Regions from separate parts of the Homo sapiens genome. Here region 2 is linked to region 1. Evidence: fine-mapped expression QTL. A gene starts in region 1. The other region holds a variant in brackets. All regions are shown on one strand. Distances are from middle to middle. Region 1 holds the start of SIRPG (signal regulatory protein gamma). Region 2 overlaps SIRPB1 (signal regulatory protein beta 1).

The links. PIP is the estimated chance that this variant, and not a neighbour inherited with it, causes the effect.
Region 2: its variant is the best candidate, but not a certain one, in a credible set for the expression of SIRPG in blood mononuclear cells (TOPMed, PIP 0.72).

Annotation. Positions count from the first base shown.
Region 1 is chr20:1,655,695-1,661,074 of GRCh38, reverse strand. SIRPG (signal regulatory protein gamma) reads left to right here and starts at 3,296. Exons shown (of 6, transcript NM_018556.4): 1 at 3,296-3,433. The coding sequence starts at 3,361.
Region 2 is chr20:1,563,855-1,569,234 of GRCh38, reverse strand. SIRPB1 (signal regulatory protein beta 1) reads left to right here. Exons shown (of 6, transcript NM_006065.5): 5 at 2,968-3,082; 6 at 3,738-5,380. The coding sequence ends at 3,080. Among named protein-coding and RNA genes, the nearest start is that of SIRPD, 8.8 kb to the right of the region's middle. The variant G/C (reference allele first, on the strand shown) is at 2,970.

The sequences.
Region 1 (5,380 bases):
ATAACTTTTGGAGGACATGGTCAGATAGTATTAAGTAATTTGCATATATTAGTTCATTTAATTCTCATCACAAACTTATGAAGATGGTATGATTATTCTCTCCGTTGTACACTTGGGGAAACTCAGGAAACAGGGAAGTTAATAGTGACCCCAGGATCACACAGCTGGGACCCATTAGAGCTGGATTTCAGACCAGGAAGTTTTGATTCTTAAGCCCACAGTCTTACATCTTTAGTCTTCTGGAGCATCCACTGGCTCCCAGTTTCTCATGTGTCCCAAAGTCGTCCCTGGTTATCTGCACCTGCTGTGATGAGTCAGGGTGAAATATGGCAGATAAAGGAGAATTTTGGCTCATGGACTCCCAGGTTCCTGGTCCTCTCAAACATTCAGATTTTATCTATGCTTCCCCAAGTCACCTAAATTTAAATTTCAATTCTCCACGTGATTTCCACAAAAATTGTAAGCATCTGTGTACTTAGTTGATCTTTACTGAAGGATTGAAGTTCACAGGAAGGCACTTGCTGCTCTAAGCACAGATTCTGCCATCTTCCTGACACTATACTATGCATTTTTGAGTCATATACGCCCAATTCTTATTTTTGGAGACATAATACTTTATGACTCACACCTCTCAAAGTAATGTAGTAATGTGGATAGGTAAAAATAGAGCAATAGGAAAAGATATACCACAATATTGTGGTATATTTTTACCTATCCACATTACTTTGTTTGGGTGTGTCTCTGTGCTGTACCACAGGAAATTTCCCCTACATAATCACCCAGCTTACTAACTTACTATTATACTTATTTATGTATAGTCAGCTAGTCAACCTATTAAGTTTTTTTAAAAAATTTCAGCACTGATTATGTTTTCATTTCCAAAGTCTGTGTTTTGGTATTTTTTCAAGATGGTTGTTGTTACCTCATGCCCGCCTATTTCTGTTTCATATTATTACATGCCTGATGTTGGTTTATGAATTTACTTCTCTTTTGTTTTCCTTATAAGATCATTAAGTATACTAACTTTAAAGAACTTTACACATTTTGTTTTTTCATATTTGCTCAGGTGTGAAGTTCTTTTGATTGCTATTTGTTTTTGAGTTATTGTTTTTCTTGAATTTGTTAGCTGCAGTGCTGTTCCTCAAATCTTTGGTGATTCTTGCTTGCACTTCCGTCTTCCCAGGAATAATTCCCCATGTGATCATGGGTTGTCAGGGCCTCGTGGAGCATGGCACCTGCCCCAGCCTCACTATGAGGGCTGCTCCTAATTGAGGCTATAGCTTCTTCTCTGCTTTCTTCCTGAGGGATGTCTCTCCCTTCCTGCAAGAGGTATCATAGTACAACCATTAAAAGTGAAGGCTGTGGAGTGTGGCAGCCTATGTTCCAGTTCTAAAAGCCGGGTGATCTTGAGCAAATTCATTACTCTCCATGTGCCTCGGGTTTTCTCACCTGTGAAAGGAGGTTAATGGTTGAGCTTACCTCATGGGGTCAGAGCAATGATTTAATGACATTACCAATAGAAAAATGCTTGGCACCATATCTGGAGCACAGGAAACTCTCAATAAATGATAGCTGTTATAATTCCTTCATGTCATATAGAAGCCAATTGCTTGTATTCAAGTGTAATTAGACATTGATTCATATATTCTTTTCATTTTGTGTTTTCACTACTGTGGGTGTGGAGAAGGAGGGGAAGATTTCACCCTGTGTACATCTGCCACATTAAAACAGGACTTTCAATTAAAACATGATAACATTTACAATTTGATTTGACAATTATTCATGACAGATTAAGAACCTAAAACCCACATGTGAGATGAAGGATTCTGGACAGGTCTTTCTTAGTCATAGATGCTGGAAGAGAAATCATTTCTTTTAACAAGGTGGCTTTTCTAAGGCACAACGGTGGCAGAGAACCAGTGGACTCTTCCTGTACACAGAAAATAATTATAGCCATGTTTTTTTGCTTATAATTAATTATGAGTCAAGCATTCAGTATGGCTTATATTATTCCTACCATAGCTCTACAAGGTGCATATTCTAACATTTATTTACATACAATCAAACCAAGGCTCAGAGAAGTAGTGTCTTTTTGAAAATCACACAGCTGGAAATTGTAAGAGGAGGAATTAATCTATGGTTGAACAAGGAGCGGGATTTAGAGAATCCAGAGGGAGAAACTGATTTCAGGGTGGCAGCGAGAGTCCAAATACACTATATAAGCTGGGTCTCAGGAGGCCTGGGTTGCTGGGAGAAAGCCACTGGTGGGCAACTCAGCATGCAGGAGGGATCCATTCAAAAGCAACATTTGAGTTCCCGCACTTCACCTGGCACCGTGAGTATCAATAATGACCTACTGGGTTTCAGGCATGATATGCTCATTACCTCTTTAATCGTCACTAAAACACTGCACAAAAAGACTTACTATTCCCAGTTTAGGAGATTGAAACTGAGCATAGGAGGGCCCAGCGACTTCCCCAACTCCTTGGCACACACTCTTGGCAGGAGCATGGATTTTTCCTCTTTCCTCATTTCCCATCCGAACTCAGTGATGAATGAAATAGGTGCTCTGTGTGTAGAAGAAAGGGTATTGAAATTGATGCGACGGCCCCAGGAACCTGCCCACCATAATCTTCCCTCATGATAACCCTATCCCCTTTCCATAACCCACAATCCCCACCTCACTCCACAAAGCAGTTGCTTATTACCTCAAACCCAGTTTCTCTCCTGGAAGGAGTCAAGAAATAATTCCTTCTGCTGGGTGCAGGCACATGAAAGTGCTAAGGTCCACAAGAGACTGAATTTGGGCTAAGTGTTGCCAATTATAGCAATTTGGAATAGAAAATCATTTCAGGAGAAGATCTGGTTCCTCTCCAGTGTTGAGCAGGTCCTGTGAACTCTTCTCCTACGTCCAGCGGAGTGGCATTTGGTTGAGGCTGGTGCAGAACAAGACCACAAGCCAACCACATCCTAGGGTCTTGAAATAAAGACTTTAGAAAACAATACCTAACAACAGATCTTTCTTGACTTAAAAGCCTCAAATGGCAAATCACCAAGAAGACCTGAAAATGGGTTTGGGGACACGAGGAGGGAGCACAGGTCCCAGGCAGGCAGGAAGCATTATTTCTGCTAACCCTGTCTGATTATCCTGAAAATGGAGCACGATTAACTCCTTGCTTTGTAGCTGCCTACTGTGCCTGATTTGTAAGTCACAATCTAGAAGCAGGTTACTGTTGCATTCCATCATAGCCACTTCCTCTTGAATTGAGGGAGGCAGGGCTTGTCTTCTGTCTTCAGAGCAGGGCCTGACATCTCCCCAGAACAGACGTTTGAACAGAGCAGGCTTCTGAGGTCTCCAAAATGCCTGTCCCAGCCTCCTGGCCCCATCCTCCTGGTCCTTTCCTGCTTCTGACTCTACTGCTGGGACTTACAGGTGAGCATTGCATTGGGCTAGAACCCTTTCTCCCTGCTTCCTGGACCTAGCCTTGCCCCTGGACTTGCAGCAATTTCAGATAAGCACAAGCACTGCCAAGGAAGGTCAAGGACTGGACATTGTCCAAGAGCAGAAGATCAGGGAGCTGAGCACTTTCTCTGTGGATCTGCAGCTGGCTACCAGAGGCATCAAACCTTGTGAGGCTTCTGCCACCATCACAATTAGTTACATTTTTATAATATTTTATTTGACAAACACAGAAGAATCATTATTAAATCCTTACCTGTCTTGAGTCCTCCTACCCATTTTTGTGTGCCCTCCTCCTCTTTAAGAAGTTCCACATTTCATGCTTACAGCGTCCTATATTCCTTTCTTAGGGCTTCCACAACAAAGCACCACAGACTCAGTAACTAAAACAATAGACATTTACTTTCTTTCTTTCAGTTCTGGAGGCTGAATTGCAAAATCAAGATGCCAGCAGGGTTAGTTTCTACTGAGGTCTTTCTCCTTGGCTTGTAGAAGGCCATCTCCTCCATGTGTCTTGACACATGGTCTTCCTCTGTGTGTGTCTGTATTCTCATTTTCTCTTATGAGAACATCAGCCATATTGGATTAAGGCTCCCCGCCAGTGACCTCATTTAACTAAATTGCTTCACCCATTTATGCCTAGTGCTCCGTTATTGGATCACTAAGCTTGCGGGAGTTATTTATATCCTACTGCTCAAGGGCATCGCCAAGGTCTGATTTTTCAAATTAAAAAAAAATTGCAACCTCGGGCATAAATGGGTTAAAGACCTTGTCTCCAAATATGGTCAAATTCTAAGGCGCTGGGGATTGGGGCTTCAACCCATTCGTTTTGGGGGCACATTCAGCCCATAACAGGCACCACCATCTCCCTTGGTCATCTTGACTTTCCTCTGGAGAATTTATTTTCCCTTCCCCCAGGCAGACAGGATTGGGAGGTCTTTCCTGGTGCCACCTGAGAGAGCCCTGTTCACAGCTCCCAGACAGGCTGCCTGTCTTCACCCCTTTTTCAGACCATGCAGCTGACCCCCGGTCACAGGGCTGGGCACAATAGCCTCTCAGTTGCCCACTGGGCCCTGCTGTGATGTCATCTCACAGGTCTTAGAGGGCAAGGTCTCACTTTTCAAATTATTTTTTTTACACATACACTGTACCCAAATGACAGCAGTAATAGTTCAGCAATTGCTCTCTTCCTGTAAGGCAGATGCACTTCTTAGCATTTTGTGTGTATTAAGTCAACTAATCCTCACAGCATCCCTGTGTGGAAGCTATAACTCTTGTGCTCTATTTGCAAATGGGGAGTGAGGCAGAGGCAGGAACCTGTTCATTGTCCCCTACTTCAGTCCATGGAGCAGTTGGGATCAAGTCCAGGTTGACCAGTTCCAGAGTTTATCACCCTTTTAACCATGTTATGCTATGTGTAGAAATATTAGAAAATGCAGGCAAGCAAACATTAGATTAATAATCACCCATCACACCAGTCAGAAACAATCAGAGGTAAAACACTAGTGTATGTATGTTTTCCCAAAATGTTAAAAATGTGTTGGATGGTTTCTATGTGCCAAATATTTTACTGAGATTTTTAAATTTGTCATAATTGTAATTAATGCACAAAACAACCTTATATACTAACATGATAAGCCAAACTTTTATATATATTTGTGAATGTGTATATATACACATTATATACACATATATATGCACATGTGCCTATGCATGTACATGTACATGCACAGATGAGATTTCATTTTTAATCATTGGTTCTCTTTCTATTTTCAGTGAAATTTTTAACAAAATAAATATTTTATTTTATTTTTATTTGACAAAAGTATGTATACTTATGTACAACATATTAAGAAATATGCATACATTGTGGAATGACTAATTTGAACTAATAAACATATGCATTACCTTACATATTTA
Region 2 (5,380 bases), 92 kb after region 1:
TTTGAAAGATCTGGGCCCCAGGGATATTTTTGGATATTTTATAATCATAGATTCAATGTCGTTAATAGTTTAGGGTTATTCACATTTTTCGTTTCCTATTGAGTGAGCCCTGGTAAGTTGTGTTTTGCATAACTTTTGGTCCATTTCATCTAAGTTGTCATATTTATGTGTGTAGAGTTGTTCATAATATCCTCTCATAACCCTTTTGGTGTCTGCAGGGTCTGCAATGGTATCCCACGTTTCATCCTGATACTAAAAATGTGTCATTTCTCTTTTCTTTTTCATCAGTCATGCTAGAGTTTTTTCCCATTTTATTGGTGTTTTCAAAAGATTGACTCTTTGTTTCAATGGGTTTTTGTATTGTTTTTGTGTTTTCAGTTTCATTAATTATCTGCTCTCTTCTCTCTTTTTTTTTTTAAATTAATTCCTATCTCCTGCTTTCTTTGGGTTTACTTTGCCCTACTTTTTGTAGTTTCTTTAAGTGCGGGATTTATATTTATTGACTTGAGACCTCCTCTTTTCTATGTCCTCCCTTCATCACTTTCTGTGGCTGGGGGCTGGTATTTGGGCATAGAGTCCCTGCTGTTTGGCTGCTGGGCTGTTCCTCAGTCCTCAGGTTCTTACCTCGCTCTTCCACCTTGGAAGTTCTCCTATGCCTGCTCCTCATGATATTTCTTGGGTTCATAGTTGTACTTCTCAAGGAGGCACAGGATGAGATGAGTCTGTACCATCTGGACAAGGTTGAGTCTTTTCTTAGACTTCCAACCACCCACTGGGGCTGAGAGAGGGCTGCCATTTTTGGGTTCTTTCAGTGTGTCTGACATGGCATCCTGGCACATATGCTAAGTCTGGAAATGCATTTTAGGTTGTCTAGGCTGGCAGGCAAACTGCAGGATGCCTTCTGTGACGTGCTGCATCAGTGGCATGGGAGCCTAGTGAGAGACTGTGCCCTAGGGTTAGGTGAGTGTTCCCTTTTGACTCAGCCATTTTGCAGTTTGGCATTCTCTCTTCAAGCAATATTTAGGGCCTGGATTGTGTAGAATTTACTTTTCCTTTTCTGTTTCTTCTTTTGGCTTGGGGAGGATATTTATAGCGACAAGTAGCGATGCCACTGCAATTGTCCCCAGTAACTCTGAAGTCAACTGACAATCTTTGAGTGGTTTGACCCAAATGTCTCCTTCCACATTTCAGGGTCCCACAACTTCCCCATCAGGGCCCTATCCCAGCATAGCAGCCATTGAAACTGAGATTCATGCTCCGCTGTGATTCTGCTACTCTTCTATGATGCCCAGGACCCAATTCTCTATTCCTTCTGCCCTGTGGCTCCAAGAAATAAGAATCTGCAGTGCTGCCAAGAAGTCCTCTGGCTTCCAGCTGAACTTTAACTCATGATGAATCACTCTTAGTTTCTCATTGCCTTCCTCCCAAGAGTTCATGCCCAGCAACAGCTAACACCTTAGTTCTTATAACGACCATTTCCCAATCTGTTTTCAAAAGGCTAATGGCAAGGAATTTCCTTCCTGTGGTAACACTATCCCAGTTTAGTGCCAGTGAAAGTGTTATCAATCGCAACACAACAGCAAGTCACGGCTTCTCCAGTCCCATTCACCACCAGCCCTGGGGTCCTCATTGCTAGCTGATGAGTAATCAGATTCCCAACTTATATTTTAGAGTCTTCTTTCCAGACCACTTCCCAAGGACAGTTTCTCTGGGAGGCCACCTGAGGATGCATAAAGCAATGCAGGAGGCATCCTAGAGTGCTGTCAGGGTCAACATGCCTCAGGAATGAGGAGGCAGGAGTGTAGGAGGAGGGAGGTGCTGAGCCACAGTGCAGGCAGTACAAAGATGCAGCTGCTCTTGCAGAGAGGCAAAAGGCCGGAGGGTCCTGTAGATTTTTTTCAAATTGAGGGGAAGGGCTGGCCCTTCATATTCCCAATGCAGTCTATCTCTCATGTGGGCTGCCCCTTAGAAGGAATAAACTTGGGCAGTGCAGCTCTCCTCAAAGGAGAGAAAGCCCCAGAGAGCCACCCATCTGAGAACTGCCGGCCTGCAACACTCCAACACTCCAGCGGCTATAGATGCTGAGGTCTCCATTCCTTCCTTAAGGACCCACCAGCACCATTTTATTTTAAAAAAAATTTTTTTTAATACCTTTGTTACTTTTAACATCCAAAACCCCTTATTTAAAAAATGCAAACAGTCCCAACATGAGCTTCCGTAGATCTGACTCTCTGTGTCCAACAGAAAGATTTCAGATGACATCTGCACTGGGGTTGAGGTAGGAGAGATGATGTCTGAGGCCCTTCCAAGCCCGAGGCACATTCCCTGACTCACCAGGGAATTTTCCAGCCAGCAGGTTTAATTGGGTCTTGTCCCTGGAGGGCTCCCTGAGATCATGAGAATATGGGGTCCTCTCCCTGCCCCTGGGGCTAAGAAGGGCAGCATGCAACTCTCTCACTCTGAATCCATCCTCACACCACCTGCCCACCCTTTACTAATCATTCTCATGATCCTGGAGTGTTGGACTTGTCTTGGACTCAGGAGTCACCCTTGGGGACATAATGATGGGCTTCCCTAGGTTTGGATCCTACTAATCTCCTGACACTCCCTAAACTCTCTGGCCTCAGTTTCCCCATCAGAATGGAATAATAATCCCTGCCCCATGGGCGTGTGAGGATCAAGTGAGGAACCCAGTTGCCACATATATGAATACCTGAGCACACACTCTCTCCACCTTTTCCCTCCAGGAGGATAAACTGGCAGCCTGGGACAGGGTGAGTGAGAATGAGGAGCCACTTTCCCTGGCCTTTGCTTTCGGCTGGAGTCAGGAAAGCCAGAGCAGGATGCAAGTTCAAAAGCTTCAGAGGATTGATGGGCCCAGGTAGCCTCAGATGGGGTAAGTGGAGGCCCCTGGGATGAGCTCCCAGGTGGCCCCTCTCATGGCTCCTCCTCTTCCCTGATTTCCAGAA[G/C]CAGCGCTGGCTCCTACTGCTCCACTCCTCGTAGCTCTCCTCCTGGGCCCCAAGCTGCTACTGGTGGTTGGTGTCTCTGCCATCTACATCTGCTGGAAACAGAAGGCCTGACTGTAAGTTTAGGAGAGGGAGGACTGACCAAGGGCTCCTCCAGAAAGGCAAGGCCAGCAGGAGGGCCCAGCTCACATGCCATGCAGCTTCAGGGTCAGTGGAGTTTACAGAAGGTGACAGGGCTCCCTCAGGATACTCAGGAGTCTCAGGGAACCCTGTATGGGGCTCCCAACCCCCAGGGAGTGTGCAGGAGTTGGGATGGTCAAGGGTATTACAGGAGGTGGGATGCTTCAAGGGGGTTCAAAGTTGTCCCCAGTGGCCTAGGAGTCCCATGGAAAAGGTGGACAGAGGGGTCTAAGTGAGGGCCAACTGAGTGGGTGGTCCCTTGGAGGCCACTGCTGGGACTCCATGGGTTCAAAGTAATCCCCACCGTAGTGTTGAGAATTCCCAGATAGGCTGCTCTGAGGGCTGTTCCTGCTCTGACCTTCTGTGTGCTTGAGTGGAAAGCGGGGAAGAGGGAGCATCAGGACTTGGAAGAAGTGCTGAGCTGGCAGAGTCCTATCTCAGGTCTGCCTGTCCACCCATAACAGGCATCCCAAGAGGAGACCAGCACTAGGGACATATCAGGCTCTCAGGAAACATTTCTTAAATGATGAGCAGATGAATGAATGTGGATGTGTTTTCCAACAGCTCCTTCCTTCCTTCCCTGCCATGTAGGACCCTCAGTCTCTGCTGCCTCCTCCTTTCTTGAGAAGCTCAGCCTGAGAGAAGGAGCTGGCGAGAACCTTCCCCACACTCAGCTCCAAACGCCTCCTCTCCCAGGTCATCTGCCTGCCCACACGCTCCTGTTCCACCTTCACAAGACCATGATGCCCCAAAGCAGTGTCTCTATTCACGGTCCTGAGCAGGGGCCATGGGATTGGGCTCTGGGCACTGACTCATGGCACCTCCCTAGAAGGTGAGAAACACTCCAAATCTAAACACACCAGGACTTCTCCCATCCGTCGCCTTGGGACTGGCCATAAACCACAGACTCTCTCCAGGCTCTCAAGAGTTATCCTGTCTTCTGGATTCCTGCCTACCCCAACTCCCCCAGCCTTGTTGAGGTTCTCTACTGCCTCCTGAATACACATGAACCCCTATACCAATTTTAAGAAAAAAATGATTCTCTTTCCTCTTTGTCCAAGCATCCTATCCCTCAAACCCAAAAAGAAAGAAGCTCTCCCTTCTCTCTCTGTGATGGAGACAGTATTTCTTCTAGTATCCTGCAGCCTTCCCAGTCCTGCTGCTTGTGGTAGAAATGCTGCCACAGCCCAACATTGAGGAGCCCTCGATGACTGCCCTTTACAACTCATATTCAGTTCTGCCTCCAAAATGCATGTGTCCACTTACATGAGATGGTAAATGTTTAACAATGGACTTTCTGAAAGGGAAAAACCAAAAGCTGTTTTGCAGTGCTTGCCAATTTCTCTAGTGTAATAACTCCCAACCTGACCAATTTCACACTGCCAACAGTTAAACAACCAGATTGCAAGATTCCTGAAATTTAACAATTGGTTTTCAGGGCCCAGTCCAAGCCTGCTGCTGGAAACCTCAGAGTTAAATCCCTATTCTCCACACCTCTCACCTCCACCACCCCTCCCTGTCCCAGCCAGCATCATCTCTTTGGGGACCACTCCTCTGGCTTTCATTTTTCAGCCACAGTGATTCTTTGGAAAAGTCAAATCATATCACTTCTCTGCTTCTTCCCCAACACAGCTGCATGGCTCCCGCTCTCCCTCCTTCAAGTCTCTGCTCAATGTCACTTCATTAAAGGCACCTTCTATAAACTACCTTGTATAAAATATTATTTATTTTCTCTATCCCGGCATTCTAATTTCTCTTATCCTAATTAATTTTTCTTTAGCCCTTATTTTGATGAGTATTATGCCGAATACAGGCAGCCCTCACTTTTCATGGCAGTGCAAGATTGCAAAAATGACTGTGCAACCTGAAACCCAGGAAAGCAGTCTCCATAGTCAATCAGAAAAACAATGATCATTCTGTGACCTTTACCATTTTTTGTCAAAATATTAGAAACTCTCACACTCTCAGTTACAAATGTAGAGGACAATGAAAATATAATGAAATAAATATTTATTTGTGCACTACAATTCAAAGCATTAGAAACATTGAGAGTTCAAGTGCTGTTTCTTTGTAAAAATGTATCCAGAGTAGTTGGAAGAGTGCTTGCCTTTTTTTGTATATTTCTAATATGGAGTGATATAGTTTGGCTCTGTGTCTCCATCCAAATCTCATCTTAAATTGTAATCTGCATGTGTTGTGGGATGGGCCTGGTAGGAGGTGACTGAATCATGGGG